2 separate regions of the Homo sapiens genome follow, and region 2 is linked to region 1. The links come from fine-mapping of genetic effects on gene expression. Tissue or cell type: putamen. Region 1 holds a variant in brackets; the other region holds the start of a gene. All regions are shown on one strand. Distances are from middle to middle.

Evidence for each region. PIP is the estimated chance that this variant, and not a neighbour inherited with it, causes the effect.
Region 2: it holds the start of HHIPL1, and the variant in region 1 is fine-mapped to the expression of HHIPL1 in putamen (GTEx, PIP 0.96).

What each region holds. Positions count from the first base shown.
Region 1 is chr14:99,672,022-99,674,852 of GRCh38, forward strand. HHIPL1 (HHIP like 1) reads left to right here. Exons shown (of 9, transcript NM_001127258.3): 8 at 296-378. Among named protein-coding and RNA genes, the nearest start is that of CYP46A1, 11 kb to the right of the region's middle. RefSeq lists an enhancer at 1-340. The variant C/T (reference allele first, on the strand shown) is at 1,076.
Region 2 is chr14:99,643,751-99,646,415 of GRCh38, forward strand. HHIPL1 (HHIP like 1) reads left to right here and starts at 1,379. Exons shown (of 9, transcript NM_001127258.3): 1 at 1,379-1,712. The coding sequence starts at 1,458.

The sequences.
Region 1 (2,831 bases):
GTCCATGCTCTGGATTAGAAATGTCCTGGGAAAGAGTAAGCCTCCAGCCCTGGTGCTATTCCAGCAGAGGCTGAGCGTGCAGCCGGTAGGCTGTTATAGGGGATTTATGCCCTGGAGCTCTTAGAATCCTGGGGGCATGGAGTGGGCAGGGAAGCTGCAGGCCACACAGTAGGTGCATGGTGAATGGCCGCCTGTTACTATCGTTGCTGTTCATACCTGCCTCACTGTAGAGAAAAGGCACCCTCAGGGTGGGCTCCCAGGGTGAGACTCATAACCTCCTGTGTGTCGTTGGCAGGCGGGCACCACCTGGCAAATGTCAGATCCAGCCTGCTCAGGTGAAGATCAGAAGCCGTCTCATCCCCTTTGTGCCCAAAGAAAGTAAGTGCCTGCCAGTGGGACACTGAGGGTTGGGGGAGAGATCCCGCAGCCCACAACGGCTGCCTTTCCAGCCAGACTCGGGTCTTACCAGCTGGACCTAGATGCCCCTCTTCAGCCCCTGTGCCTAGCACTGTGCCTGGCACACATTAGACATGGTGGTAAGGTGGATGGGACTTTAACTAAACTGGGTCTTGCTTGATTGGTCACAATTCCTTAAACCAAGAGAGAAATAGCTGGTGCCAGGCAAGGTACTCTGTGAGTTCTTGGGAGGGACAGAGAAAGAGGATGTATCTGTGTGTAAGCAAGGGAGACCGGAAGAGTTGTTTGTGGGAGGGGCTGGCATATGGGCTGGGCCTTCATAGATTGTTGACAAGCCTGATGAGGAGAGACGACAGAGCAGGGCCACAAATGACTGCCCATGGGGCCTGGGACTGGGGGAAGGGGATGCCCCAGGCTGGGGCTGTTCCCCTGGGCCCAAGTTAGGTGGGAACAAAGACCCTGTGTTGCCAGGTCTTCCAATTCTTCAGAGAAGCAGAAAATCCCCCCATCCACTCATTCACCACGGACACGTGCCCTGCCCTGGGGATACAGCACACGGCGAGACACTGCAGTCCTCGCCTTCTCAGCCTGTTAGGTACAACCTCCCAATTCAAAGTGTTGGCGACTAGTTCAGAATTTTAAAAACCACTCCGCGAGC[C/T]AAGGAAAATATTTCAGCAGGCCAAGTGGGCTCAGCAGGCCACCCATTGGCAGACTGGGTGTGTATGGGGGTGGGGAGGGCAAGAAGAGAGGGAGGCTAGGCACCTGGGCTGAAGAGGTACCCGGGTAGAGGGGGAAGGGTCTGAGCTCAGTGATTTTGGAAGTGAGTTCTGGCCACAGTTGGTTTCAGGGCTTGGTGAGTTTTTCATTTACTCATTCAGCAGTTTCTGGCACTTTTGTTAGTTACTGGCTCCATGCTGGATGCCAGAGCCACAGTGAGAAGTCAGACTAGGCCCTGTTCTGGCTGGGACGGACAGAGATGTCATTTACTGTCCAAGGCCTTGTGATCGAAGTGTGTGCCAGGTACCGTGAGGACCCACCCAGAACAGTGGAGACTGGGGTTGGGGGTAGGGGTTCCTGGAGTCTGAAAAGAAGAGGAAGGGTGCACCAATAGGGGGTTGCACTGAGGGGGGTGGCAGCTAGGGGGATGGCACTGAGTGGGTATGGCACTGAGGGGGGTACACCTGGAGGGGGTGCACTGAGGGGGATGGCATGGAGGGGGGGTGCACTGAGGGGGGTGGCACAGAGGGGGTGGTGCACTGAGGGGGGTGCACCTGGAGGGGTTGCACTGAGGGGGGTGGAATGGAGGGGGGTGCACTGAGGGGGTGGCACGGAGGGGGTGGTGCATTAAGGGGGGTGGCATGGAGGGGGGGTGCACTGAGGGGGGCGGCATGGAGGGGGGGTGCACAGAGTTGGGGGATGCACCCAGGCAGGTTGCACGGGGGGGTGCACCTGGGGGAGTGCACTGAGGGGGGCTGGCACCAAGAGGGAGGTTCACTCAGGAGGGTGCACCGAGGGGGGTGGCAGTGCAGGCAGAGGGAACAGCAAGAGCCACAGTGGGAGAGGTGAGGCAGCCTGAGGAGCAGGAGGTGGGGGCCAGGGGCCAGGGTGCAGGGACAGGGAGCGCCTTGCCCATGTCATGGTGCTCTGGGCCCTGGCCTGTGCTTGGCCTTGTGCTGAGAGGCCCTTTCTCAGCTCTCTCTCAGTGGTTTTCAAAGTGGGACTGGCTGAAGTGGGGCGGGATTAAAGAGGTTTGGCCTGGTGGCCCCAGGATCCTCCCCATAGTAATTGAACAGTCTTGGGCTGTGACGCATGGCAGTGCCCAGTGCCTGGCACTGCACCTGTGTGGAGTAGAGCTGGGCACAGCAAAGTGTAGATTGAGGTCTATCCCTGTGGCTGACCTGGGCCAAGCGTGTCCCCACATTCTGCAGAGACAAAGGAAATCACCTGCCTCAGCTCCCTAGCACCGACTGCACCCAGGCTCTGTGGTGGGGTATAGGGGCTCTGCCTTGTTCCCCAGACACAACCAGAGTTCCCCCATCGTACCCGCTGTGACAACCCGCTGGTGCCAACCTTGGGAACCAGGAGGAAAGAGATTCACCCTGACCCCAGGGATCCCTGTGTGTATCCCGTTCCCAACCTGCTGGCCACTGGCCACCACAGACCCGCAGCAGTTTTTACCCATCTGTGGGCCTCAGCTTCCTCACCCTCACAACCAAGGCCTGGAAGATGAAACGGTGACTTTCTCTTAGAAGCCTTCCCAGACACTCCTTCCTTTCATTGCCTTCCAGAGTTATGAAGTGCCAGGAGCTGGCTCCCCCACCAACCTAGGGACTCCTGGGAAGGTGGGGCTTGGGGTAGGGAGACGCAGCAACAGCAGACTGGCACAAAGCAGTTGATAGTGTTTGCTGTATGAC
Region 2 (2,665 bases), 28 kb before region 1:
GGGAGTTGGAGGGGAAGTGGCAGGGAGAAGCCGGGGTATTTCTCCTCCTCTGTCTGTGCAGAATCTCTGACAGTGGCTATCTCCAGCTGTGGCCAGACAGGCCTTGTGAGGGTCCAGCTTTGACAAGGTGACCATAGCTCCTTGGCTCCAGTAACATCTGCTCTTCCTGCATCAAGGACCTGGGGACTGTTCCTACTGTTGCTGATCTCAAGGTTACTTCACTGAGCCCTGTATGGCTTCTTAGCCTCTTTGGCTTCAAGTCCCTGCGTTAAATTCCCCGTGTTTCAAATACTCAGAGATGTTTGGCTGTGCGGAGACCCTGACTCTTACACTGCACCTGTTCAGGCCAGAGCCACAGACCTCTGAGTGCTCCAGCCCTGCCGCATCTCATCCACCCCCAGCTCTGCCAGGAGCATGGGCCCAAAGACAGAAACATGATCCCCCAGGACAGTCCAAAGAGACCTGCAGAGGACGGATGTGTGCGTTGGGGCCATGAAGATGGAGTAGGAGCTCACTGGACAGAGAAGATGGGGAAGGACACTCCAGGGAGAAGCAAACGCTGAGGTCCACTTGAGAAAAATGCCTGGGTGGTTTTGGTGCTGTGAGATTCTAGGGTAGGTGAGACAGTGTGTGTGTGTTTGTCTGTGTGGGTGGTTTTGGTGCCATGAGATTCTGGGGTAGGTAAGACAGCGTGTGTGCGTCTGTATGTGTGTGGGGGGGTGGGGCGGGGTTGGGTCTGAATCTCCAGCGGGGGCAGCGGAACAAAGGGCTGGATGCCCATCCCAGGAGGTAGATTCATCAGTGCTCCCTATGCGAGAGTGGAAGTGGGGAGCCCCAGTGGGTCCTGGGCTGCAGGAGAATCCGCTGCCCCAGGAGCAGAGACTGGGAAGAAGCCCACAGTAAGGGCAAAGGGTGGACTGCGGAGACTGCTCCGTCCTCCCTCCCCACCCCTACGCCAGGTTTCACTTCTCCCTGAGAGTCCTGGGGCAACACCCCCTGTTCTTTCCCTCGCACCCCCATTTTTAAAATGTTACGTGGGAGCTTTCGGGGACGGGCTGCGGGCATCCGTTTCCCTAGCCCAGTGGGAGGTGGAACCGAAGCCCAGGAGTCCAGGCCTCTGGCCCTGCGCCTCCCTGGCTAAAGAGCGCCCTGTGGGGAGGAAGCAGGGCCCCAGGCGGAACCGGGAAAACACACCGGGGCTTTAAACAGACCGGGCCACTCCCATCGAATTTGGAAAGCGGTTAAAAGAGGTCGTGCCGCATTCTGCGCCGCGTCCCTCTTCCTTCAGTCCCGCCGAGTGTCCCCGACCAGAGGTGACCTCCTAGAAGGGGAGGTCCCCAAACTCGAGGCCCTGCGTGTAGGGAAGGGGAGCGCCCGCCCCTTCCCTGCCGCCGCGAGCGCCCCGGGAGGGGACCGGGGCTGCCGTCCCTCCGCCTCTTCCCCCGCGGGGCGTAGCGATGGCCCGGGCCAGGGCCGGGGCGCTGCTGGCGCTTTGGGTGCTCGGGGCCGCCGCGCATCCGCAGTGCCTGGACTTCAGGCCGCCCTTCCGGCCGACGCAGCCGCTGCGCCTCTGCGCGCAGTACTCGGACTTCGGCTGCTGCGATGAGGGGCGCGACGCCGAGCTGACCCGCCGCTTCTGGGCCCTGGCGAGCCGCGTGGACGCCGCCGAGTGGGCCGCGTGCGCCGGCTACGCGAGGGACCTGCTGTGCCAGGTGAGCGGGCGCGCGGCCACCGGGCGGGGCGGGGCGCGGGAGGCCGAGTCCTGGAGCAGAGATCGGAACCCCGCGGGGGCGAGGGCCAAGAGTGGGCGGCGGACTCGGGAACTCTAAGCCCCAACAGGGAGTCATTTGGCACGGGGCGGGGAGACCGCGCATCCCAGGACGACTCTTGGCTTTGCCATTCATTAGTTTTGTGACTTGGGCCTTCTCGGGGCCTCAGTTTCCCCTCCTGAAGCAGGAAGGACGGACGGACGGACAGATGATGTCATCATTTCCTCAGAGGTTGGGGGCTCTTCTGCCCCAGTCCCCTGGAGTCGACCCCTCAGCGTCCCACCCCGAGCAGCTGCACCCTTGTCGGGGTACCAAGGTGGAGAGGCATCTGTCCCGGTCAGTGCTCCTTTGTGTTGTCCCCGGGGCAGTGAAAGCAGGGGGCCCTGGCGTGGGCGTGGTCAACGTGTGGCCCGGGTTTGTTGAGGGGGTTGGGGCCACTGTCCCCCACGAGCGTCTCACCCCCATCCTGATGCCCTTGCCACTTCCGCCACCACCTCTGTGGGTGCTGTGCCCTCTCCTGGGGATGGCGCCCTGGCCTGCAGAAGCTCTCTCAAGACTGAGCGACAGCTCTTTGTTGAAGCCCCTGGGCCCCCCATCTTCCCTCTGAGGGTGGAGCCCCTGCTTCTGTGCACACCTGGTGGTGCCACCGCTATTTGTTTTCCTCTTGTGGGAGTCTGAGGCCCCAGGGCCTGACCACACCCAAGTGGGCAAATGTTGCCTGGCTGAATGCAGAAATGGAGCAGGACGGGCAGCCCCAAGGCATTCCTGCCTCAGCATCTGGGCAGTGAGAGGCCTGGGGTGGAGAGGCCCCAGGGGCCAGGGCCGTGTCCCAGCCTTCGGCCAGCAGGGGCAGGTGGTGTGGGGAAGGGCAAGAAGGCTGACTTGGAGTTGGAGTT